3 separate regions of the Homo sapiens genome follow, and regions 1 and 2 are each linked to region 3. Evidence: fine-mapped expression QTL. A gene starts in region 3. Each other region holds a variant in brackets. All regions are shown on one strand. Distances are from middle to middle.

Region 1 (10,552 bases), 33 kb after region 3:
GGTCGGTGGCTCCTGATGACTTTGAGAATCACTAACCCTGAGACCTCCTGACAGGGACCCTCCCATTCTAGGCAGCCACCTCAGGAGCAGCCCTGATGTGTGTTCAGCACTTCACCGCTTCCAAAATGCGGCCATCCCTGTGATCCTCAGGATAGTCCCTACGCAGCCAGTCCCATCATTCCCTTTTCCTGAACTGGGAAACTGAGACTGAGAGATCTATTAACATACCCCAAATCACCTCCAGTAAGTGGTAGACTTTAGGACTCCCACACAGGTGATGGCTTCCAGAGGCCATCGCCCTTATACCCAGGCATAAGCTTCAATTTGGACCAGAAGAGCCTGTGGCTGCAGCAGAGCTGGGCATGAGGGTGAGCCCAGGAGGGGAAGGCTGGTGCAGGCCCCTGGGAAAGGTAGCTCTGGGAGGCACCAGTGCCCACCTCTCCCAGCCCTTCCAGATCACTTTCTGGTCACTGTGTGATAGGGGCAGCCAGAGAGCCCCATCCTTGCAGTGCCCTCACCTGTACCCGGGCCTCAGTCAGGTCTGTGCGCAGGGCCAGCTGCTCCCGGGCATACACATCAGGATAGTGGGTTTTCTGGAAGACCTTCTCCAGCTCCTCCAGCTGGAATGTGCTGAAGGTCGTGCGGTTACGACGCTTCTTGCTCTTGTTCTTGGCCAACTCCATGGAGTCAGGGAGTCCCGGGGAAAGAGGAAGATGCAGGCTGGCCAGGCAGGGGCCTGGGGAGCCTTGCAAGTTAGAGGGCCCGTCTCTGGGGCCCCCTCGGCAGTCCAAGGGCAGCTGGGGGAAGCTGGCAGCTTTGGAGGTCTTCTCCTCAGCTGCAATGGAGAACACAAAAGGGAGGATGGCAACTGAACCAGGGGCTTTTGTGGGTTGGAATGGAGGGAGGGGGAAGAACATTGACGCCTCAGTCTCCGCCTCCCCCTTCCTTTCCCTTCCCTTCCTCCTGGCAGCCACCCTCCATGGGAGCCTGGCATTTAGAGGCCTGCCTGCTGAGCCTCCAGCTGGGGAGGGGGCCCTGGGGAACTATGTGCTCTGTGGTCTGGGCGGATCTGCTGGGGCCAGAGTGGGGTTCATTTCGGGGAAGTGCTCTGTGGTGGTGCGTTCCACAGGGACGTGAGAGGACTGGCGCCACAGCAGGACCACCACCCTGGCAAGGCCAAGAATGGGGGCAGAGGGCGGGGTGAGGATGGGGTGGTTGACATCTCCTGCTCCTGCCAGAAAGTGCTTCCTTGTTCCTAACTCTGCAGGCCTTGGTTCCCAGGCCCTTATGCCCACGCCTCTGTTCCCAGGGCCAGGCAGGCTGTGGACGTGGGTGCTCAGACCACCTTTGGCTGGTCTGGCTGAGCTTTATTCTCTGAACCCCAGGTCTCAGGTCAATATCAAATTCCCCAGCTCTGGTGTAAGAAGGGCAAGATGGGACAAAGAAGCTTCCAGAGGGATTGCTTCTCTCCATTCCTCCTAAAATTGTGGTATCTGGGCAAGGACTTAAGCTCCAGCAATAGAGAAGCAGAGCTGAGATAGGCTGTGCTCAAAGAAGGAGAGTTGGGGACCAGTGTCACAACAGGGCACAGCCCCTGTCCCCATCATTCCCATCATTGACCACCCCCTCCTTCCTCAGGAGTTTCTAACTGCTCCCCCATTGCCTGTGTTTAACAGGCAGGGAAGGACTTGATTACAGACTGGAACAGTTTCCAGCAGCCCCACTCTGACATGCTAACCCCTACTCCAGAAGCTTGGCGGAGCCTCACCATGGTGGATCGACCGACAGAGCATGGTGAAAAATAGGTCACTCTGATTGCCCACACCCTCTCCCTCTGGCAAGGACCCCCAGCGGTGTCCCCATGAAATCCCTCCTCAACAGTCCACTGGGATGGCAGCTGAGACGCCACAAAGACGCCCCACTGACTCACACAGCCTCTTGCCTGGCTCTGGGCCCATCTCCAGTGGAGGCCTGGCCCTGAGGAGGCCCAGCTAGCTGGCACAAGAGGCAGTGTCTTCCCAGGACTTGGTGTCAGGATCACAGCTGTGGTTGGGGGAGGATGGGACTGGACAAATGGGCCTCTCAGGATCTGGGTCTGGTGAGTCCCTGTCTGCACTGTGAAGGACAAATGGGGCAGGGTCCTCCTCAGCTGGAAGGTGGTCAGTTACTTTCCAGGACTACCCAGGCCATGAGATAAGCTCCTGGTGTGTGTCCTGGAGGACTGGGAGAGTCGAGCAGGGCTACCTAGCCTTGGACCATGCCCAGCCTGTACACAGGCCTGTACACAGGTAGCCCACAGCTACAGCCCAGGGACCAGGGCTCCTTCACAACTCAGGTGGAGCACAGGGGAGAAAGTGTTCCAGTCTCTGACTTCCATTCTTGGGCCAGCACATTTCAGGTTTAGAGGCAGTTCCATTTGATAGAAGCTTAGGAAGGAAGACTCACAGAAGTTGAACCAAATAATTGAAAATGATAGGAAGACTAGGGACACTGGAATGGGACATCCCCCCCCCCCGCCCCCGCCACCCCCACCACATGCATACACACAGCAGGCCATGGAAATGTTCAGCCTGAGAAGAAAGAGTCTTGGTGTCTTGTGTTTGTAGGGAGGCTGTGCTGGACTCCAGGCAGAAAAGGGGTGAGGGTAGCTCAGGGCTGAGGGTCAGGGCTGGGGTTCAAGAGTACTGACATCCTGGCAGAGGCCCTCCAAAGCCCTGGGGCTTGCTCATCTGCCTCTTGGGTCTCAATAGGACCTGCCCAGAAGAAGGGACCAGATCTGGGGCCCTGAGACTTGCGTTCCCGACCTTGAGCCACCAAGCTGCCAGGGACAAGGGATGAAAGTGCAGTAGGACTTCTCAGAGCAGCTTCCCCAAAGAAGAGGCTAAGCCTGCTGACCTATGCCCAACTCCCATGCCTGCCCAGTCTACAGCCCTCTCAAGGGACCACGGAACTGCTCTCCTCATTGTCATTGCCCTGAAACCTCCTTGATCTACCTGGAGAACACCAGAGGGAGGGTGGCATCCCTCCACTTTGGGAGAGGGGCACTCCTCAGAGAACACAGAGCAGCCTCCTGAGGAGCAAGGCCCAGAAGAGGAAAGGGATAGAACTGGGACAAATGGAAGGCAGAAGCCAGGAAAGACAGGCCAGGAATAGCAGCCAGCAGCTTGAACCTAAGCTTGTAAAGGAGTGAGGGCTGCTCTGCTGAGCACGGGGCACATCTGAGGTGTGTATGGATTGTGCAGAGGAGTCACTGCACCTGATCCGGACACTAGGTGGTTAAGGCGGGGTACTCATGTTGGAGACAGCCTGAGACAACGCTGGGGTGTCTTCTGCCTGCATAACCGCAGGGCCACAGCAGCAGCTGTTGGGCGTGAAAGCCAGGAGCCTTTTAACGTAGTAAAGGAGCTCTCTGTCCCTGACCCAGCTCTCAGGCCTGCCGTACCCTGAGCACCCCTCACCCGGAGGAGTGCCAGAGCCCCTACCAGCGGCTGCTTCTAAGCCACTGTGCAGCCAGGAAGCAGCGCCGCAGCAGGCCCGAGTGCTCCACTGTCCCCACAGAAGGCATCCATTGAGACCGCGGGACCAGCCTTGGCTTTCACATTTCGCTGCAGCCTTGTCCCGCGCCGCACTGTTTCCTCCGGCCACTGTGGGGTCACTAAGCGACCTGCAGAACTCGCTGAGGCCCAGGCTCCTGCAGCTCCCGCCGAAGACTCAAAGCCAGAGTGGACATAAACGCCGTGGGCAGGACCCCGGTGAGGCCTCGGTGCCCTTCTTGGGGGTTCTCAGCGTTGGCCCAGAAGCCTCAGCCCGGGTCTAAGAACTTGGGACTCTCCTCGACTTTGGCGATCGGCCGGGTCATCCGGCTCAGGGCCTCAGCGGCAGCGGGCAAAACTCTAGTAGGAGTCTCTTGCCGAGGGCGTGTTTCGACGTCAGAGCCAAACTCGGGACAGACTAGCCAAGCGCGGACGGCGCGAGAGTGGCTGGCAGCGCCAGCACGCAGCCTGGGTTCAGAGCAAGGCTGGGCGCTCTCAGCAAAGGGCGGCCTGGGGCTGCGCGGGCGGCGGACTGCAGGCGGGAGAAGAGCGAGGTGCGCCAGGCTCTGGGGCGCGCAACTGCCCAGCCTCGTGAAAGATCGCGCCGCAGATGGGGCGCAGCTGCGCGCTCACTCGTGTGGACTGGAAACGCTCCGAGCCGGTTATTTTAAAAACCGGGAAATAAGGCGGGTTCCCTCTTCGCCCGCCACTTCCCACCAAGTAGGCTGTGCGGCCCTGGGGGCTGACTGTCCTCAAGCAGCCAGGCTCCACCGCGCGCCGCGCTGCGCCGAGGTCCGCTCTGCCGCAGGGACGCTGGCAGCCCGTTGAACACCGGCAAGAGCGCCAGAGGCTAGCGGCCGCCAGGATCTCTACCAGGCTCTGCTCGCACCCGCCTGCCTCCCTTTCGTTTGGCCTGTCCTCCGTTCAACTGAAATCGTTAATTTTCTTACCCCCTTGTTCTCATTTTGATATATTCTACGCTTTAAACATGCTCCGTTTTCTTTTGTTTAGTCTGCTCCCTCCCTCTTTGTCCTTTCCCCCTTCTCTAGTTATCCGTTTCGTTCGATCTTGCTCCTGCTTTTTTTATTCGTTCGTTCCTCATTTATTCATTTTAGTTCATCCCAGCTCGCCGACTGCCATTTACCCTCTCGTTCTCGCCGCGCTCTCCGTTGTTTTGTTCAATTTCCCTTCCCCTTTTCTTGGTTGTCGCTCGCTTTCTTTGGTTTTCTTTCTCGGTATTTCGTTGTCAAGGCCACCCTTGCCGTCGGATCCCGGGGTGCTGGGTTTCTCCCGGCCGCTCGTTCCGCACCAGCGCTCTCTGCAGTTCGCGCGGCACCGGTGTGGTCCGGGGGCCCGAGCTGTCGGTGCCGGATGCGGCGCGCCTAGCAGGGACGCGGGCCTGGGGGGGTGGCTCCTGCCCGACGCGGAGCGCTGAGCCAGGCCGGGTACCTGTCTCTGGCGGTGCTCACCGCACTGCGCGGCCTCTGCCGTCTGGCTGGGATCAGAGGAGCCAGGCCAACTGCTTCTCATTAAGTCCCAACTGTGGTTTTTATCAGGAAAGCCTCTTTCAAAGGGCACAGACACGAAGCTCCGCGGACTCGTTCATTTCCTCCGTTGACCCACACACACCTCCCCGCCCTCCCCTACACATTCCCACCGCCC[C/T]GGCTGGGCGAAAGCCGGAGATGCCCGGCCACTCCGTGGAGGCCCGCGAGGCGCCAGCCGGGCGGCGGCAGGGGGTTGAGGCGGATCTTGGAGGATCCAGTTCTGGGCCTAGGCTGCGGGATATGGCAGCGCAGATAAGGTGGGTGCAGTGCGGAAGCCGAGACGCCTTACAGGTCATAGGGTGCGGCGGACGGCCGCAGAGCTGCCGATCAGCCTGCCAGGCCCCTGCCTTCAGGCGCATTCTCGGATGCCGGCGCGGTCCAGCCGGCCTTAGCACAGGGCACCGGCCCGTGAGCCCGCGGCGCCAGGGGGTTAGGCTGCCCAGGGCTGCTCCTGACTGCCCAGCGGTGATGATCCAGCGCGGGGAAGCCAAGACTGCCAGAAGGGCGGCTATCATAGTGCATAACGGCAGGGAGGCCAGCTTAGTATGAGAAATAAGAATACAGTTATTCCGTCTTGAGGACAGCCCTGGCATTGCACGACCAGTCGCGGCCAGACTGTGCCAGTCTGCCGCACAGGCAGCACCCTTCCTGTGAAGGCTAGGCCCGGGGAGGAGAGACGGGCCAAGACCAGGCCGCAGTCCCCAGCCGACCCCGATTTGACCACTCTAGGTTGAGGCCCAGCCTCAGGGCCCTCAAAGGGCGCCAGACACAAAAGCCGCGCTTCTTCGTCAGGTCTCAGTGTGGCTCCACAGCCCTCGGCCGGGTCTGGGCTTCAGGGTAGGTGGCAGTTCCAGTCCAACTTCGGCAGAGCATGCTCTCTCCTTCCCAGGTCCAACTGCTTTCGGGCCCCGACTGGACTCCGGGCCGTCGCCACTGCACCTTCCCTCGACCTCCCGCCTTCCATTCCCGCCGCCGAGGAACGGTGGTTCACCCTCCCGCCCCACACTGGCCTTTGCCTGGCCCGGGCCAGCGCCAACCCGGCTTCCGTGGAAGCCGTGGCGAAAGGCGAGAGGGGCAAAAAGTTGAGAAATAGGCGAGCGGGAGAGATAAGCAGGAAGGCCCGGGTGGGCCCGGGTAAGGAAGAAGAAGAGAGGGTCGGGCTGCGCGCTACGCCCCGCGCCGCGCGTTACCTTCCGCGGGGCCCTCGTAGAAGTGGCCGCCGTTGAGGGCCGGGCCGGGCCCGAGGTCCTGCAGGTACTTGGCGGGCGGCTTGGCCGGCTCTGGGAGGTAGGGCTCCAGGGGCCCGCAGGCCGGAAAGCGGGTCAGCCGCGGGCCGCGGGGCGGCGCGGGGTGCAGGTGAGGCGCAGCGGCGGGGGTTCCCTGCGGGCCCGGAGGCTCGTCCCCCGAGGCCACATAGGGGCCGGGTGCAGGCCCCACGCGGAAAGGCGCGCAGTGCTCGGGGTCCATGCCGGCTCAGGGCGCACAGGCCTCCGGGGCTCCGGGGCTCGCGCTGCCCGCGCCGCCTGTGAGCGCCCGCCAAGGGGGAGGGACCTGGGCGCGGGGGCGCGGAGCCCCCGGGAGCGGCGCGCGCCGCGGGGGGCGGGGGGCGGGGGGCAGGGGAGGGGGCCGCGCCTCTGACTTAATGCTGGAACCATCCACGTCACGTGTGGCCCCGTGCGGGTTAACCCCTCGGAGCCCGGGAACCCCCTCCCCCCATTCACCCAGAGCCCAGTCCCAGGCAGCTCAGGAGAGGATGAAGCAGCTTCCTCTCTAGGGCAGGATCCCTTTGTCTACCCATCCAGGTGAGTCTCTTGCTCAGAGCAGCACCCGTGGTCCTGATATCCAGCCTAGAGGCACTTGCCCCTAGAGGGGTGAGGCCGTGTGGGCATCCCCCCCAAACACTTTTGGGCCTGGACTCTGGACATCAGCCTGGGATGAGGGCCTGGGCGGGCAGACAGGCAGGCCTTAGGCTGCAGTTTTACTTAGGTCTCCGCTAGGAGCTGGACAAAATGTTGCCTCAGCAAAAAACACCTCCCTTAGAGATCTCTTGTTTCTCACAGTGAAAGGAGCTATTGGGAGTGTTGTGTGGAAGCAGATCTAAGCTGGGAATGGGGTGCTGGGGAGCTTGGACCTGGACACTATCATTAATTAGCTATGGTTCCTTGCGCCAATCATTAGTGTCCTCATCTGACTGTGGAGGTCGGGCCAAGCCAACCCTGGGTCTTTCTATGTATTTGAGGTGTGTTTCAGAAGTAGAGACAGGGCCAGAGCAGACAGGGAGACTCCCATGGGCAGCTCAGGACTGAACAGTGTCCTGCAGGGGCAGCCTTTGGAACAGGTGGAGGATGAGCAGAAGGGCTGGTGTTTCCTCTGGCAGCAGCTTGGAGTGAATGCGTTTCAGTGGGCAGATGACCCAAGTGTCTGGGGACCCACTGGAGAGACTGTCTGCAGCTCGGACCTCAGGGCTGTGCTCCCCCAGGCCTGACGATTCAGAAGGGATGAGGGTAGAACTGCATCTTCTAAGAGCTGAGTCTCCCCAACCAAAAGGAGACAGGATTAGAGCAGTAGCTTAGAATTTCAGAAAAGAGAAATAACCACCACCCTACCTAAGATCTGGGGAGAAATACCCAAGGACCCGAGGACCCTGCTCACTTCCCATGGATTGAGGAGCCCGTGGGGCTGCGTTAAACTGTTTTTATTATCAATGCCCCCGGAGACTAGCAAGAGAGGTGGGGAGTCAAACATCATTTGTATTTCATTTGAATTCTCAATTTTTAAAGGAATCCAAGAGGCCTGGTGTGAACACCTCCCTCTTCCGCTGGGGGCTTAGAAGGGGTTTCTTGGCTCCTCAGCCAGAGTTGGGCTGTAAATCAAGACCAAACAGGAACCAGAAGCCTTGCATCTCACAAGGAGTCATTAAGCCGTTATTAAACATACCATAACTTCTCTGAAGACTTATTGGTTTCAACACCACCTTGGAGGCATTATGGCCATTAGGGCCCCTAATCACGGAATGCAGACTGGCCAGAGAGATGGGAGCACCTGGGGCTGGTATTTCTAGTCAAGAGGGAGGCTCGGCTTGAAATTAAGCTTCCCTTCTGGCCTCACCAGAGGGATCCTTTCTCCAGGATCTAGTGGATCCAGCTCTGGGCAACCAATTTGAACCGATCACCTTTGCCCATTAATAAGGTTTTTCAATAGTTGTTGATTGGATATTGTTTTCTTTTCTCTCTTCCCCATACCTGCGAAATTGGATATTGTTGACTTTCTAGGAGGACATCAATTTAGGATACCTATTCTATTCAACAGTTATCAAGAAGTTTACTATGGAGGATGAAAATATCACCCAGGAAAATGTCACCAACAATTTAAACAAGGCAGCCTGGATCAAAGGCTGAGTCTTCTGCCTCCCATGACAACCTTGCTGAGCCTCAGTTTCCTCATCAGAAAGGTGGGCCACACATGGAAGTAGGGTATTTGCAAAGCATTCGTGTTTTGATGCACTGTGTTAATTTAATAGATGCTGATGATGATGGTGATTACCATCTCCAGTGGGTTCCATCACTGAATAGGTGAAAGGCTCCTGACTTCAGAGTGAATGGGCCTAAGGCTGGAGCTGAGCAGAGAGACACAGGGACCTGCATCCACTTTCAAGCCCAGAAATTTCTCTTGACATTCTCCCACTCTCTGAACAGAGCCAATTTCCATACTGGGATGGTGTTACCAATTAAACTGAGGAGAGAGAAAACCCTAGATTACATGAGAGTTTTGTGGGTAAGTGGAGTTGACCTTCCTGGGAGAGTTTTCTTCCAGAACCACACAAATCAGCACACGGGGAGGAGACTTTTCCACTTGTCTTTTAAGCCGTTTGTGTAAACTTTTATCTATCTGTATGTGGTCCGGAAAGAGTTTGATGGAGCAGGTGCATAGAAACCTCAAAAACAGCAATCTCAGAGTTAATAAATTTTCCTTCTTAGGGGGGCTGGGAGATCATGGAGTGTCACAAAGGCCCTCATATTATAGGTAAAAACAACAGCTAACACTTACGTATACCTACAGTGTGCTGGGTGCTAGCTCATGTATTCTACGTACATTGGTTTATTAATTTTTATTTTATTTTATTTTTTTTAGATAGAGTCTCACTCAGTTGCCCAGGGTGGAGCACAGTGGCCATGATCTCAGCTCACTGCAACCTCCACCTCCCAGGTTCAAGTGATTCTCCTGCCTCAGCCTCCCGAATAGCTGGGATTACAGGCATGTGCCACCATGCCTGTCTAAGATTGGTTTATTTAATCTTCACAGCTCTGTGAAATAGGTACCCTGTTTTCTAGAGAAGGAGCCTGAGGCCAGGAGGGAGCCATTTGTTCAGGTAGACACAGCCAGTTAGTGCCAGAACCAGAATTTACACTCAGATCCGCGGTCCCCCACTCCACACGACTCCTCAGTCCTTCTTCAGTTAACGAAGCTGAAATCATTCACTGTGCACCCTCATTTTCCCAGTGGGAAGGCTGGGACTCCTTCCAGAAAGGAAGGCTGAGGCCAGAGTGGCCTGGGGACATTGCACTGCTGCCTTCATGATCAGCAAATGGCATCTGTTGAGACTCGTATGCCTAGCTGCGGCCACTGATACAGTAGGTAGAGGGTGGTTTCTGCTAAGCTGAGACCAAATGAAACAGAGTGCTTAACACTTGAGAGGTTTATGACCAATGCAGCCAGATGTGGGGCAGAATTTTAAGGGAATTTGTGAATTCACCATTTGTGCTGTTTAATAACCAACTGAATTATAACAGCATTTGTCACTGAAAAATTGTCCATGGAGTAAGAGATGAGTGGATGGCGAGATCCAGATAATTCCAGGCCCTGTAATGAAAAAACTGAACAAAACCCCTCTCCATCTGCTAAGAAGAGCTACGTTTTAAATGGAAATGATACTTACTAGCTGTTTTACACCAGCTGAATGTTTAATTCATTCATTTAACAGGAGAGCCTACCATGTGATCCCCATTTGCTGGTACCAGGATATAGTGGCACACACGACATGTGATCCCTGCCTTCACAGTGCTTACACTTTGCTGGAATGGAAGTGTCTCATCCACGTTGAAGAAAATCATCCTCATTTGGCTGTGAATTAGAATAGAATCTGGTCTTGTGAGAAGAGTTCCTGGCTCTGGGCCTCAACTGTAAGGTCAGTTCTTCATTTAGGGAAACATCAGCCCCAGCACCACTTTCCGTTTCATTCTCTGCTTCCCTCAGCCTGCACCACAGGAAGGACATGTGCTTCTTTTTCCCCCAGTGGATTTCCAGAAGGGATAGGGACGATGAGAAAGAGGTAACCTCAGATCTGAGATTTGCTTGACATACACAAAATTTCCTTCCAACAGGGAAAACTCAGTTGCTTTTTTTCCTTCAAAGGAAAGACAGTTGGTATTACCTTTGTCCTGTTTAGATACTGAAATCCTAAATTGATTCATATAA
Region 2 (5,000 bases), 52 kb after region 3:
TATTCTTTCTGCATGGTGACAGTTTGCAGTATATAAACTTCATGCTAATGTCATAGTAGGTCAAATTGGTTCCAGCTGCTCTCCTGGAGACACAGCGGCGTCCTAAGGAGCACCAGAAGACCTTTCTTTCTTCCTCAAACATTTATGGAACGTTACTATGGGAAGGCACTGAGATGGATGCCAAAGTCAGTTAAACATCTCCCACCCTGGAGCTGTGCAGTGTCTACACCACTGGGGAAATGAGACATGTATGTCAGGAACTTAGGCAGAAGCCTGAGTGAGTGTGAAGGATGCAGGAGAGAGAGAGATAAACAAGTGGCTACAGCGTTCAAGGGCAATGAGATGACTCTGGCTGGAGACATCTGAGAAAGCTGTGTGGAGGAAGTAGTGTTTGCTCTGGGTCCTGAAGGACATGCAGGGTTAGGCTGCATGGTGATGGGGAATGTTAGACACTGTGGTAGGCTGATGGGGAGGATATCCTGAGGCAGAGACACTTTCTAGTGCCCCCTCCCCAAACCTGACCTGAGTGGTGGTTGGAACAAGTTCATCTCCTTCAGTACATTTCACCCAACATTTGTTGAAATGAGTAACCAAACTGGGCACGTGTTGGTCACTGGGCATAGGAATGGAGGAAACAGATTCCTGCCTTCCTGGCTCCTGATGGTGTAGATCGCATTCCACAAATCTGCCAGGGGCTAGTCAGGGCTGCTGGGGCAGTGGACGGGGAGGCCAAGTAGACAGTGGGCAGGCCCCACCTCCACTTCAGCCAGACCAGTTTCACTTTTTCATTTTTCATGTACTGGGTTTCCATGAGGAGTTTCCTTTGGACGAAAAGGGTGGTTTTGTGGCAGAGAGAGAGTGAAAGAAGGAAAAGCCCTGGTTCACAGGCACCTGTGCAGTATGAAAACTAAGTGAATAATCTCTGGTTCACAGGCACCTGTGCAGTATGAAAACTAAGTGAATAATCTCTGGTTCACAGGCACCTGTGCAGTATGAAAACTAAGTGAATAATCCCTGGTTCACAGGCACCTGTGCATTATGAAAACTAAGTGAATAATCCCTGGTTCACAGGCACCTGTGCACTATGAAAACTAAATGAATAATCTCTGGTTCACAGGGGCCTGTGCATTATGAAAACTAAGTGAATAATCCCTGCTTCACGGGCGCCTGTGCACTATGAAAACTACCTAAGTGAATAATCACTGGTTCACGGGCACCTGTGCATTATGAAAACTAAGTGAATAATGCCTGGTTCACAGGCACCTGTGCACTATGAAAGCTAAGTGAATAATGCCTGGTTCACAGGCGCCTGTGCACTATGAAAACTACCTAAGTGAATACTTAACGAAAGATTGAGAGCCTGTCAGTAACCAAAGACTATGATTAAGCCATAATCCAATTCTGGACACCTGAGTTTCCATTTACCCCTCCCGCCCTCCACCACGTCCCCCTACCCTGTCCCAGGGTGTCTTCTGTGCCTTTCCTGTGTGTCTGTGGCCTGTGGATAGAGAGTGTACCGGATCGCATGCTACCCTTTTCTCTGGCATGGTCTTCCCGAGTCCTGCTCTTTTCTCCCACGCCCCAGCTGGTTGGGAGTGGCTGGGTTCCAGCTATTCCCAGAACACTCAGGAATCCCATCCTAATGATATCTCAAAGCCAGACCCCAAAGACGGGCGTCCACTGGGCTGAGCTCATACTCCCTCTTCTGTAATATCCCATGAGTTGCAATATGATAAAACGCCACCAGGGTGCAGGACAGAAACATGGGGCTCTGCTGTCTGAGGGCCAGGCTTATTTTCCACATAAAGGGTGGAGAGCTTACTGTAAGCACTGCCCTGTGGCCCCCACCTGCAAGAAGCTTATGGTCCCTCAGTGGCTTCAATGATACAATCCCCTACTCCTTAACTGGGGAGAGGAGTCTGTTGGAGTTGTAGCTGGAACCCCAAGTCTCTTCCAGCACTGCTCCACTTCCTTGCCCCCACAGCACGTCTCTGTGTGTTTCACCTACTTAGCTTCTGCCCAGGGTCCCCACTGGCTTCTCC[A/C]CTGGCAAGGACCGAGGCCGAAGGAGCCTAGGCTTGGCTCTGCCTCCGCAAGAAGCCCCCAGGCACACATGAGGCATATTGACTCTTGTGGCTTCTCTTCATGTGGGACCTCTGAGGGAACAGGATGCTGGAGCCCAAGGCCAAGGCCTCTCTGCTCAGGGAAGACAAACCAGCTCCTGTCCCACTCCTCCATCCTGGGGACCCCCACCCCCACGCTAGACTGGGGTCTGCCCACAGGCCTGCCTACTTTCCCCAGCTGAGGAGAGGACAGGTCAGCCCCACTGTGCTGGGGCAGGGAGAATGCTGCTTGACAATGAGGCGTGCCCTGCGCATATGGGTGGGTGCTGGCAGTGGTGGCGGGAGGCTGCGAGCATTGACAGGTGACCGAGGGACCCCCATCTCCAGCTGGCCCTCAACACCTTAGCTCCTCAACCAAAAGACATGTATTAAGCACCTCCCTGCACAGGGCCCTATGCAAGGCACCATGGCAGGTGGGACAGTGATTTAGACACCATCCCCACGTGTGTCTGTGGACCCCACACGGGTGCTCTCATCTGACTCTGGCAGGCAGTTCTGTGTGTGGACCACCTAAGACTGTTGAGGGAGGGCTCCCTAGAAACATGCCCCGGGGGATGGGCTGGTGGGGCAGGCAGCAGGGGAGTAAGTGTCCCTTGTGGCTTTGAAGGAAGCATAATCTCCAAGCTCTGGGATAGCAGAGAGCATGCCTGTCGTTTCACTGCTGAATTCCCAGAGCCTGGCAGCAGGCCTGACACACAGTAGGCATTTTGTTAATGTTTGCTGAATGAATAACTAAGGGGGAGAAGTAAGAAGGCATTGAGACAAGGTGGTGGTTGAGCCTGGGACTCTGGAGGGGGTGCAGGTGGCTGGGTTCTGACAGTCCCCTAGCCAGGGCTGCTTCCTGGGTGACCAACCATCCCAGTATTTAATGGGAACTTCTGTGTCCTGGGAGGCTTCTCAGTCTGGGGCAAGCCTGGGTGGCTGGTCACCCTGCTGCTCCTCCCCTTGGGAATGGGCCATACAGTCAGTGCTCCCAGCCCTTTCCCTCCCTGGCCCTTCCTCCACACCCCCTTTCTCTTTCTTCCCTGCCCAGCGGGGTCTCCTCTCAGGAGACCTAGCCTAGCCTTGCCCCAGCCACAACCCCCCAGCCTGACCTCCGGGGCTGCCACTTCCCTTTCACTCGGCTACTCCTGATAAGGAGACTGGAAACAGGTTTGCCCTTTCACCTCTGCATATCTCTCCTCCAGCCTGCGGGTCCTCACATCCTGGGTCATATCCTGCGGGGGCCTGTGCACCACTGCATCAACCCCTGCTCACTTGCAGGCTACCAGCCCGAAGCTTTAGGTGGGAGAGGAGTGTGGGATGAGGGGCAGCAAGGCCATAGCCCTTGGGAGATGGGCCTCTCCTGTCTTGGCTGAGGACAGTCCAGGGGCCTGCTCCCAGGGCACAAAAGCTGGCTGGATAGGAGGGCTGAGCTGACTGATCCCTCCCTGGGATTTTGACTGACATTCTTGATGGAATTGACCGGATGTTTCTCCTTCACAAGAGACACAGCCTTAGGCAGGACAGCTGTGCCTTCCTCAGCCCAGCTGCAGCTGGAGGTGCTGAGAACCCAGAACCCACACTTCCTACTTTTGGTATAACATTGCTGGGCCAAAAGGTCTCCTGAGAAGGGCTGTGGGGGCTTCCACAGGGTCCTGGAGAGGCCGCAGGAGTCGCATCTGATTATCTCCTGACCTCATTCCTCCGGAGCTTTTGTCTCTGCTTGTGTCTGTGGACCCCACACGGGTGCACTCATCTGACTCTGGCAGGCAATTCTGTGTGTGGACCACCTAAGACTCAGAGACCCCTCAGGGTCGGCCCTAGGCCAGGCACTGAAACGTGCCAAAACCCACTCATTTTTGCAGAGTGCACCATCTGGGAACACTGCTGTCCAGAACTTCTACTCCCGTCAGAATGTGATCAGTTGCAGCTATTCTTTAAAAGAGTAATCAGTAATCTTTGCTGATTCAGAAGTCATTTCATGGATTTGCAGCATTTAGAGGGATACCATTGCTAACAACATCAATTTTGTGGCCTTGAGATGGTAAGAATTATCAGAGAACTTTTCCCTTTGGTGAAATCCCTGCACGGCAAATCCCAAAGTGGCCTGGAAGAGGGCAAGTTATCCACCTGCAGCCTGCAGGGAGCTGTGAAGGGAAGGGGGATGTTCCATCCTTGGTCTTAGGGTGGCTTGAGTGATTATGAGATTTGTATATGAATATGAGGCTCAGAGCTCATATATATATGTGTATATATATGTGTGTATACATATATATACACACATATACACACACACACACACACACATATATTTGAGACAAGGTCTCACTCTGTTGCCCAGGCTGGAGTGCAGTGGCACAATCTTGGCTTACTGCAGCCTCCATCTCCCAGGCTCAAACAATCCTCCCACCTCAGCCTCCTGAGTGGCTGGGACTACAGGAACGTGCCACCATGCCTGGCTATGTTTTGTATTTTTTGTAGAGACGGGGTTCTCACTTTGTTTCCCAGGCTGGTCTCGAACTCCTGGGCTCAAGCAGTCTGCCTGCCTCGGCCTTCCAGTGCTGGGATTTCAGGCAGAGCTCATATTTTTGTTTTAGCATCTTTTAGAGCTGTGTTTTTCAGACTTTAGTGACTTGAGTAATTTTCATGATTTTTGCCACATCTGAGTGTCACTTGTATCATTAACATTTTTCTTTAACTCATGCACAGACACACACACACACACACATCTTTTTAAAGGAAAATTTACATCCTTACTATAAATGGAACACCAGTAGTTATTAACAGTCATTATTAACAGAGTAGCTATAAAAATACATGAAACATAGTAATGTTATATTGTAGCTAGAGATGCCTGTGGAAGCCTTTTAGTCTCAGGTTTGCTTTCTTAAACAGGAA
Region 3 (10,552 bases):
CCATTTTTATGCTTATTTCTTGATTATATGCTAAACAACGGGTGGATTATTCATGCCTCCCCCTTTTAGACCATCTGGGATAACATTCTGGTGTTGCCATGGCATTTGTAAACTGTCATGGTGCTGGTGGGAGTGTAAAAGTGAGGAGGACAAGAGGTCACTCTCATCACCATATTGATTTTGGTGGGTTTGGGCTGGCTTCTTTACTGCAAACTGTTTTGTCAGCAGGTTCTTTATGACCTGTATCTTGTGCTGACCTCGTATCTCATCCTGTGACTAAGAATGCTCTAATATCCTGGGAATGCAGCCCAGTAGGTCTCAGCCTCATTTTACCCAGCCCCTGTTCAAGATGGAGTTGCTGTGGTTCACACATCTCTGACAAAAATACAGGTGGGATTATTCTCATTTTACAGATGGGGAAGGAAAAAAAAAAGAGAAGTGCATGAAGACACTTCTACAGCTTCTACTCTCTACTGGATTGTGCTTTTCGCAAAGTTTCCTAGCAAGTTAGAGTAGTGAGCTCTCCAGCTGTGCTTCTGCTCCTTCACATTTGGGATTCTTTTTCCTTCTAGATCTGTATATTCTGTCTTATGCATGCCCCATTCCATTAGTTAGCCATTTTTCTTTTTCAAAAATTTTTTTAATTTGATTTTTTTTTTTTTTTTTAGAGATAGGGTCTCGCTCTGTTGCCCAGGCTGGTCTCAAATTCCTGGGCTCAAACGATCCTCCCACCTCAACTTCCCAAAGTGCTGAGATTACAGGCATGAGCCACGGTGCCTGGCCCCTCAAAGTTAGCCATTTTCTTATTGGCTATTTTTCAAATTAGGTTGATCCCAACTTTACACTATTGAAAACACCATTGCCTGAATATTATCATACACCTATCTTTATCTAAATCTGATTATTTCCTTAGAATCTATTACTAGAAGTGGAATTATGGAACCAAAACCCTCCCTGTTCTAAATTTAGCTGAAAAATGTTTTTCCCCGGGTGATACAGCTTATGATAGGCACAGGAAGATAGGTAGGAGGAAATAGCAGTGTGGTGGTTTTGGATTAATTTATTAATTTACAACAAAGACTTTTTAAGCACCTACTAGGTTGGACCTCAGGGGAAATCACTGGAGAGTTGTATCACAGGGACTTTCTGGACTTGAGCCTGGGGTGTAAAGCAGGCAATATGTAAAGCTGGAGAGACAAAGATGGATAAAATGCCTTTAAGGATTTCACAGTATAACAACAGATAATAGTAAGAGTTATTATTACGCAACACTTCTAAGATGTCTGATGAGTATCTCAAACTTGATGTGTCCAAAACTGAAGTCTTGATCTTTCCTCTAAACCTGTTTTTCTTACTCTCGAGCTTACTTATTTATGAAAGTGATACAGCCATCCACTCAGTTGCCCAAACCTAGATCAAGGGGGTCATTGTTTATTTCCCCTACCCAGCTGATAAGATTCCAGCAAATCCTGTCCCCCTACCTACACAATATAGAAATATCAACCCAATGCTCCACTCTGGTACAAGCACCATCATCTCCATCTACATGGTCCCCTAACATGTCTTGCCTTATCCACTCTTGCAACTCTCCAATCCCTTCTCCAAAAGCAGCCAGATTGAACTTGTAAACATCACACCATAACATCTCCCTGGTTAACACCCTCGAATGGTTTTCCATTTCACTTAGAATAAAATTCAAACTCCTTCCCACTACCTTCAAGGCCCTGCATTCTTCTGGTCCCTGCATTATCATTATATGGCTCTATCAATTACTATCCCTCCCTTGGCTCACTCAATTCCAGACACTAACATCAGGGCTTTTGCATTTAGCTGTTTCATCTGTCTGTGTGCCCTTCCTGGAACTTTGCAGGGCTTCTCCTCACTTCTTTCAGAACTCATCTAAAATCACACCCTCAGGCCTGCCTTCCTTGGGCAGCATGCTTATATTATAGCCACATTCTCCGCCTCCACCAACCCCTGCCCCCCGCCCCACTGCCACCTTTTAACCTCTCAATTTTTGTTACTTCTGACAAAGATTCTCTTCTTTGGCCAAAACTCTAGTCAGGCTCCTGTGAGTCCTCTGCCTACTAGGACTAACCGTTTGGGCTTCCTTTCTGTCCTTGTTGAATCCAGTTTGTGCAGGGACTCTCCACTCTTGGCGTCTTAATCCATTTTTTGTTGCTATAACAGAATACAAAACACTGGGTAATTCATAAAGGAAAGAAAGTTATTTTTTGCAGTTCTGGAGTCTGGGGAGCCCAAAGTCGAGGGGTTGCATTTGGTGAGGGCTTTCTTAAACTGCATGGTAGAGAGCCTCTCACGGTGAGAAAGCAAGAGCATGTGTGCCAGCTCAGATCACTCTTCCTCTTCTTATAAAGCCACCAGTCCCATCACAGGGGCCCTACCCTGACGATTTTATCTAATCCTAATCACCCCCTCAAGGCTCCACCTCCAAATACCATCAACATATGAACTTTAGGATTGAGTTTCCAACGTATGGAATTTGGGGGACACAGTCAAACCATAGCACTCGGTATCTGACCACCCTCAACATCTTAGCACCCTGTCCTGCTTTCAGCAATAATCCTGTTAGGTCAGTTTAGCAAGAAACTTCTTATCCTTGATGTTTCTCTTAGTAGTTTTCCGTCCACTGACCCTCATCCTGCTCTTTGGTTATAAATCCCCACTATATCTTGTTGGAGTCAGAGTTGAGTCTAATTCCTCTTCTTCACTGCAAGATCTGGTTGTAGTGGTCCCTGTAACTATCACCATGGGCTCTCTTACATAAAGTCTGCCTTACCATCTTTAATTAGTGCCATGAACAAATTTTCCTTTAACACTTTTCAGCATTTATTTCTCTATATTTGTCTATTGTTTGTCTGACCCACCAAGCACTGTTATGTACCGTGACTGCAGACACTTGTTCCTCATTTTATCCCACTGCTTGGTGCACAGGAGACATTTATTAAATGTTTGTTGAATGAATGAATGACAAGCACTTGTCACAACGGTAACTCTGTGAAGACTAGGATCCTATCCATTTTGTTCATTACAAAATTCCGCCTAAGCCTTGAACAAGGCTATGAGTTATAAGTGCAAAGCGATTTAGAGGAAGGAGGGGTAACTAAACTGACTGAAGAAGCTAAGGGAAGCCTCACAGATAAAATTACATCTAAACTGAAACTGAAAGGAAGGTGGAAAACTAAAAAGATCAACAAGGGAAGGACTGCAGACAGAATATCGCGAGGTATTGGTCAGCCAAGATGGCTTCTAACACTGGCCGCCACACTTAATATGGCGGCCAGGGAAATTTCCTGGAGAAAATCACGCGAGAGTTGCATCACGGCGGCTGTGCGCGAGTTAAGCTGGGGGTGTGGAGCAGCCAAGATGGAGCCGGCAGTCGGCGGTCCGGGCCCACTGATCGTGAACAACAAACAGCCCCAGCCCCCGCCACCTCCGCCGCCGGCAGCCGCACAGCCACCACCCGGGGCACCGCGGGCCGCCGCGGGCCTCCTGCCTGGGGGCAAAGCCCGCGAGTTCAACCGCAACCAGCGCAAAGACTCAGAGGTCAGGAGCTTCGGGGGGCGAGGCTCGCACCGGGTCGGGCGGCGCCGGGGGTCCCGGGCCCGGGGCCACTCTAGGGGCCAGGTTGGGCTTCCCGGAGGGCTCGGTAGAGTCCGGCCGAGAACTGTCACTATACAGCGAAAGGAGCAGGAAGCGAGGCTGGCAGCTCCTGGGGTCTGGAGCATGAGTCCTTGCTCTAGCTCCGCCGCCCGGGAGAGCTTCCCGTGGCCGGCGACTGCTGGTTTGCTCCCCTGGGCCCCGACTGTGGGCGTGGCCTCGAGGCCCTAGCCCCTGGGGAAGCCGCTCTCGCCCCAGCTCGGGGGTGAGGAGTCGGGGGTCTTGGTGCACTCCAGGGCGCTGGGCTGCCGCGCCCCCAACCTAATCATCTCGGGCGTCTGTCCCTGGCACGCGGGCTCCAGCTCCTGGGTCCTGCCGCTCGCAGAGGAAGGCGCGTGTGGGCAGGGAAGGCGCCGGCGAGGATCTGGAAGGAACTTAGAGCCGGACCGAGCTAATTATCATTGAGAGTAGAGTAGGAGGGGGAAACATGTCCTGTTCTTCTGACCTGAGCCAGATCAGGCCATGGGTTAACAGTACCTGTGGTGGGCTATTGTGCCCAGTGCGCCTGATACTGAACTGTTAAAGATGAGAAATAGACATTTTAAGCATGCGTTAGGACCCAACATTCCTTCCTGTCTCGCTAGTGAGCCGTTCCTGCCGTTCTGGAGATGGCATAGTCTGGAACTGACTAGTAACCTCACCCCAAGTTAAGGAATTCCTCCCACTGCCTCCTTTTGCAGAATTCATGAATGAAGATACTCATGTCGCGGAGTTTTAGGGCTTCTTAATGAGCAGGTTCCCAGAGCACTTACTATGCCATCTCCTAGATTGATCAGCAGCCAAACTGATCAGCCAAGTTAATGAGAGGGAATTCCTAGTTGTCCAAGCATAATGTACCAATTCATACCAAAGAGCAATGATACTACCTTTAGACCTGTGGAATCAGTTCCTCAGAAGCTTTTATTTTTTGTTAGCAAGGCTAAACCCCTGAGAAAACATGTCAACAATTGGCAAGCCCGAAGTAGACGTAATTTGAGCTTGGAGTGAATTATTTGAAAAAAACAAAAACACTGACCATTTAGGAGCCCTGGCATGGTGGGATGACGGACATCAGTGTTAACTACTCAGTTTTTCAAGTGGAAGATTACGAAAGTGCAGGGGGGTGAACCTACCTTCATCATGAGAGGAGTTATCATTTTGAAAAATGGTTTAAAATTTTCCAGAGTAGCTACGAATGGTCAAATAGATACCCTCTGACGAATTGTAATTTCTCTTTGTACCCTTTAATTTCCACATAGAGGCCGGGTGCAGTGGCTCACGCCTGTAATCCCAGCACTTGGGGAGGCCGAGGCGGGCGGATCACCTGAGGTCAGGAGTTCCTGTCCAGCCTGGCCAATGTGATCAAACCCTGTCTCTACTAAAAATACAAAAATTAGCCGGGCGTGGTGGCTGGTGCCTGTAATCCCAGCTACTCAGGAGCCTGAGACAGGAGAATTGCTTGAACCTGGGAGGTGGAGATTTGCAGTGAGCCGAGATTGCACCATTGCACTCCAGCCTGGGTGACAAGAGCGAAACTCTCCCCGTCTCAAAAAAAAAAATTTCCTCATAGACTCATTACATGAAAGACCAGTCAAATGGACACATTTAAGCAGAGACCTGTCTAAATCCATTTCTTTATAGAGAGTCTGATGCCATGATCTTTCTTTAGTCATAGCTGAAATCGGTAGTTTGGGAGCCTGATCAGTGAATGCCTGGAGGACAGGGAGGCTCACATTTGATGAGAGCCCACTATGTACTACATAATTTTGATTAGTCCTTAAAAATCTTCAAAGTAGATTTTCATCATTGCCATTCAATGAATGAAGAAACCGAAGCTCAGTAACTTGTGAAAGTGTACACTGTGTTATCTCTGAACACAACGTGGAGTTCTTGTTTGTGGGTATGTTTTTTGTTTTGTTTTGTTTTGTTTTGAGACAGAGTCTCTGTCTGTCTCCCAAGCTGGAGTGTAGTGGCGCGATCTTGGCTCACTGCAACCTCCACTTCCGGGGCTCAAGCGATTCTCCTGCCTTAGCCTCCCGAGTAGCTGGGACTACAGGCACGCCCCACCATGTAAAAATATATTTTTAAAAAATTTTATATTTTTATTAGAGACGGGGTTTTACCATGTTGGCCAGGCTGGTTTCAAAGTCCTGACCTCAAATGACCCGCCCACCTCGGCCTCCCAAAGTGCTGGGATTATAGGCATGAGCCACCTCGCCTGGCCATTGTGGGTATGTTGTGTCATTTTGTGGCTGGTCTTTGTCTTCCCAGGTAGACTGTAATTAAACCTAAGGACTTTACCTATTTGTTTCTCACTTCTCTCTTCCCAGTACAAGGCTTCCAAGATGGTGTGTTCTCAGTAATCACCTATTTCCAGCAGGAAAAAGATTGTCTTTGTCACATTTTCTCTTATGTGTGGGAGGGAAGTTGATCTGTTTGGCGGCTGCCTTCTTTGTCAGTTCTCACTGAAATTTGAGACAAAGGTGGGAAAGCTGAGGGTTTCAATACTCATTTTTGTCCTGAGCTGTTGACAGTCCACTAGCCAGAAAGAAGTTAAGACTTCTGGAATCATAGCATCATATGGAATGGTCATTTACTGCACAAAATACATAGAAACCTTGTATTTATTCATTTAACAAATATGTGTGTATAGACCATTCATTCATTCACTTATTCATGCCAGGTACCATGCTGGACCTTGTGAAATCATTGGTAAGTTAAATGGATGATGTTCTTGTTCTCAGGGAACTTACAGTCTTGTGGAAAGGCAGACAGTAAACACATCCTATAATGATAAGTTATGATAAATGCTCTGAAGGAAAAGTATAGGATACTCTGAGAGGTTTTAGGAAACAAAATGTGAAAAAACATAAAAAAGTGGAGGCAGTGGTGTCCTGTAACACAACAGCATCTCGAAGCATGAGTTTCTTTGATAAATAGAATGATCCTTTTTCCTAAAGCTCTCTCCTCTTGTCAGCAGGGCTATTCGGAGTCACCAGACCTGGAGTTTGAGTATGCTGACACAGACAAGTGGGCTGCAGAGCTCTCGGGTAACGCACAGACCTTTGTGTTATTTGGGGGTGGTTTTTTCCTTATTGGTCTTTAATAAAATTAATAATGAATATCATTTAGGGCTTCATTGCTTTCCCTAGTTCTATCAAATATATATATATATATATATATATATATATATATATATATATGTATAAAACATGTTATTTGATTCAAGCCTTGTGTATCTTATAACTTTGTGTTGTCCTTTACTTTTATGAAGCTGGCTAGAGCCCAGTCCCATTGTGAGACAGTGATGTTCCTTGGCTATCCACTGTGACCCTGACAGTGGTCTCTCCTCCAGCAATGGGTCATGAGGGATGCCTGCATCTGTGCCCATCTGCTGCTGCCACTGCCACTCTCATGTAATGCGAGGTCGGTGTGAGCTGCTTCTCCAGCCTCTACAATACACATCCTGCTCAAGAGGTAGCAGCCATTTGAGAGATGCATCCCAGGTGGCCGTCAGCCCTGGCATGGCATGGTGGGATGGATGCACATCGGACTGGAAGTGTCCAGATGGCATTCTGGCACTCTGGTTGTCTCTATTGTGCACATCAGAGCACTAAGATCCCCTTCATAATTAGAGAGCTTATTCCAGGAGTCACTATGACTCAGGGGCAGAGTTGAGAGTGGAAGCAAATGCCTTGCCTTCTCTGCACTTGTGAGACCTGGTGTGCAATGCAGACATGGAACCAATGGTGACGAGACTTTGTTCTGACAGAGCTTTACAGCTACACGGAAGGGCCAGAATTCCTGATGAATCGAAAATGCTTTGAGGAGGACTTCCGGATCCATGGTGAGATGATTTCCCACACTTCTTGCTTCCTTTGCCCTGCATAACGAGAGCTGCAGGTTTCTTTTAGGCATCTGAATGACCTGAGTCATCCTGGAACAGCCTGAGAAGCCTGCTGAACCCTGATGGTTCAAAGCCAGATACATGTAGAGTGGGCTTGTGGCACATCGGTGGGGGCTTTTCAGAATGTGCATATTAGGGGAGAAAAAAAAATCATGTGATTAAAATTGCACCCAAAATACCAGCGTTTCAGTTTGGAATCAAATTCATAGAGCAGCAGTATGATCTTACCACTTACATAGGGTGTAACTTATCTTTCTGGTCCTATGGCAGTCCTGAATTTGGTGAGTTAACATGGGTCCATGCCATTGTGAGGATTTTTCTAGGCTCAGGTGTAACTGGTTTCTTGCCCTGCAGTGACAGACAAGAAGTGGACTGAGCTGGATACCAACCAGCACCGGACCCATGCCATGAGGCTCCTGGATGGCTTGGAAGTCACTGCCAGGGAGAAGAGACTCAAGGTGGCTCGAGCAATTCTCTATGTTGCTCAAGGTATTGAGTGGACCTCCCCAGGGTTCCCTGGCACCTCTGCCCACTCAGATGCAGGGAGGGGCTCAGTGAGTTGAACCCTGCATTGCAGGCACGTTTGGGGAGTGCAGCTCGGAGGCAGAGGTGCAGTCCTGGATGCGCTACAACATCTTTCTCCTCCTGGAGGTGGGCACGTTCAATGCTTTGGTGGAGCTTCTGAACATGGAAATAGAGTGAGCATTTTTGAGAGGCTGAGTAGGGAAGGGGAGGCTGGGATGGGAAGGGGGACAGAGCTTGCAGAACTAACTGGCTTTGAGAGGGTTAAATGGGGCAGAAGTTCTGGTCCCAGGCTGTGTTCTGACCACCTGGGTTGAATAACGGAGTTGGTCACTTACACCTTGAAGATTAATGGAGACTAATGACAGGTCCCTGCAGCTCCCTGATGCCAGAGTTTTTACACCAGACAGTGCAGGCCCTGCCCAGGCCTGGGGTGCTCCTCAGAAGGAGACTCTTCACTTTGAGCTCTCTTTTGAACCTGCAGACACTGCTGTGTTCGCCCTGCAGTTTCCGCCTTGGCAGGAGGCCAGGCACAAGACTGACATATGGGCTCAACCAGTGCCTGGCCTTGCCTGTGTCACCTTTGTCCAGTGGACAGGTCAGCTGCTGCTCATCTAAGGATAACACCATCAATGATAAAGCTAAGACAGCTCATTGAGTGCCTGTGTGTCCCGGGCATTGTTCTCAGAATATTACATGTGCTAATTCATGTTAAGGATATAGGTACTACTGTCATCCCCATTTTACAGATGAGGAAACTAAGGCGCAGTTAGAGCCAGGATTCAAACCGTGGCAGTCCAGTGCATGGCTGGGTTTTTTGTTTTTGTTTTTGTGTTTTTTTTGTTTTTGTTTTTGTTTTTGAGAGAGAGTCTTGTTCTGTTGCCCAGGCTGGAGTGATATGGCGTGAACTTGGCTCATTGCAACCTCCACCTCCCGGCTTCAAGCTATTCTCCTGCCTCAGCCTTCTGAGTAGCTGGGTTTACAGGTGCCTGCCACCACACCCAGCTAATTTTTGTATTTTTAGTAGAGATGGGGTTTCGCCATGTTGGCCAGGCTGGTCTCAAACTCTTGACCTCAGGTGATCCACCCGCCTCGGCCTCCCGAAGTACTGGGATTACAGGCATGAGCCACCATGCCCAGCCATGGTCTGGTTTCTTAACCACCGTGTCCTGTGGCCTCTTGTGCAGTCCAAGCACGTATCACAGCATTTTGTTTCCCCATTGGTCAGTACTTGTCAGGGACATCACTTATCTTCCTTCTTGGAGGAAGATGCTGACTCTCAAAATCTCCTGCAGCAACAGTGCCGCCTGCAGCAGTGCTGTGAGGAAGCCTGCCATCTCCCTGGCTGACAGCACAGACCTCAGGTGAGGCGAGCAGCAAGCCTGGGCTCCTGAGCGTTAGTCAGAGATGAGATCAGAGCAGGGTGTGGGAGGCTGTCTGTGGGTGTCATTGCTGTGTGTGCTTCTGTACACATCATCTGCATGTGTGATGGGCTCAGTGTGAATGATTAGTAGGAACTGCTGAGGGCTCGTCCTAGGTGGGACTCTGGGTTGAGACTCCCAAAGGCAATCCAGGGTCAAGTGACTTACTAGAGCCACAGCTAAGTGTGGCCTCCTACTCACACTGTTACTCAGGACCTGGTCGTGGGGTATTTTGTATTTGGATGAAACACTTGATGGTGTTCCCTGGACTCCCACCTTCTTGTGTACACAGCTTGATGCTCATCTTCATTGGGTTAGACCTGACAGCTTCCTAATGTTTCATGGCTGCCCAGGAGCTCACAGCAACTGCTGACCACCAAGATCACCCCTCAGTTTTTGAGGGTTGAAATCTGGCTCTTTTTATGAATTTGGAAGTTTTTAGACTAGGTGGTTGTAGTGTTGCCTCCCGGGTGTTAGGATCCCTGGGCGTCACCTCTCAGCTCCTGCTTTCCATTTCCTCATCATAAACCCTGTTTTTGTTCTCACTGTGACCCTGTTCTGCTTTGACCCTACAGCTCGCTACCACCTCTGTGGTTTTTTTCTTTTCAGGAAGCTTAGGGTGGTAAATGCTTTTGGCCATTCTTGTTCATACTCATTTATTCAGATACCATTTATTAATAGTAAGCCCCTGCTTTGTGTAAGCACTTTGTTAGACACTAGGGTGCTCCTTTGACCCCCCCATCCCACTCCATTGTGAGCTGGCTCTTGTCCTCAGGGTCCTGCTCAACATCATGTACCTGATAGTGGAGACCGTTCATCAGGAGTGTGAGGGTGACAAGGCTGAGTGGAGGACCATGCGGCAGACCTTCAGAGCCGAGCTGGGTAGGACCCTGGGGATCCTCTCTAGAGGCCCTGCCTGGAAGCTGAGGCGGAAGGCTTTGGGAGGGTCCTGATACCTTTGTGTCACCTCCAGGCTCCCCGCTGTACAACAATGAGCCATTTGCCATCATGCTGTTTGGGATGGTGACCAAATTTTGCAGTG

Direction of the effects. Positions count from the first base shown, and alleles are read on the strand shown. Sizes are in standard deviations (SD) of each study's normalised expression. Not every link is listed here.
With allele A in place of C in region 2, the expression in gastroesophageal junction of the gene that starts at base 3,374 in region 3 is lower (moderate effect, 0.58 SD a copy in GTEx).

Evidence for each region. PIP is the estimated chance that this variant, and not a neighbour inherited with it, causes the effect. A credible set is the group of variants that fine-mapping cannot tell apart.
Region 1: its variant is the best candidate, but not a certain one, in a credible set for the expression of STRIP1 in whole blood (INTERVAL, PIP 0.73).
Region 2: its variant is the best candidate, but not a certain one, in a credible set for the expression of STRIP1 in gastroesophageal junction (GTEx, PIP 0.70).

What each region holds. Positions count from the first base shown.
Region 1 is chr1:110,064,069-110,074,620 of GRCh38, forward strand. It overlaps ALX3 (ALX homeobox 3), which reads right to left and starts at 6,604. Exons shown (of 4, transcript NM_006492.3): 1 at 6,268-6,604; 2 at 519-835. The coding sequence starts at 6,544. The variant C/T (reference allele first, on the strand shown) is at 5,196.
Region 2 is chr1:110,086,512-110,091,511 of GRCh38, forward strand. All of the region lies in intron 1 of LINC01397 (long intergenic non-protein coding RNA 1397), which reads left to right. Among named protein-coding and RNA genes, the nearest start is that of LINC01397, 6.3 kb to the left of the region's middle. The variant A/C (reference allele first, on the strand shown) is at 2,043.
Region 3 is chr1:110,031,251-110,041,802 of GRCh38, forward strand. It overlaps STRIP1 (striatin interacting protein 1), which reads left to right and starts at 3,374. Exons shown (of 21, transcript NM_033088.4): 1 at 3,374-3,567; 2 at 6,641-6,710; 3 at 7,433-7,507; 4 at 7,922-8,056; 5 at 8,145-8,265; 6 at 9,385-9,453; 7 at 10,286-10,392; 8 at 10,484-10,552. The coding sequence starts at 3,388. LOC105378895 (a long non-coding RNA gene) reads right to left here and starts at 4,189. Exons shown (of 3, transcript XR_947693.3): 1 at 4,159-4,189; 2 at 2,099-2,181; 3 at 1,046-1,187. RefSeq lists enhancers at 1-36, 3,049-3,438 and silencers at 3,439-3,658, 3,899-3,968.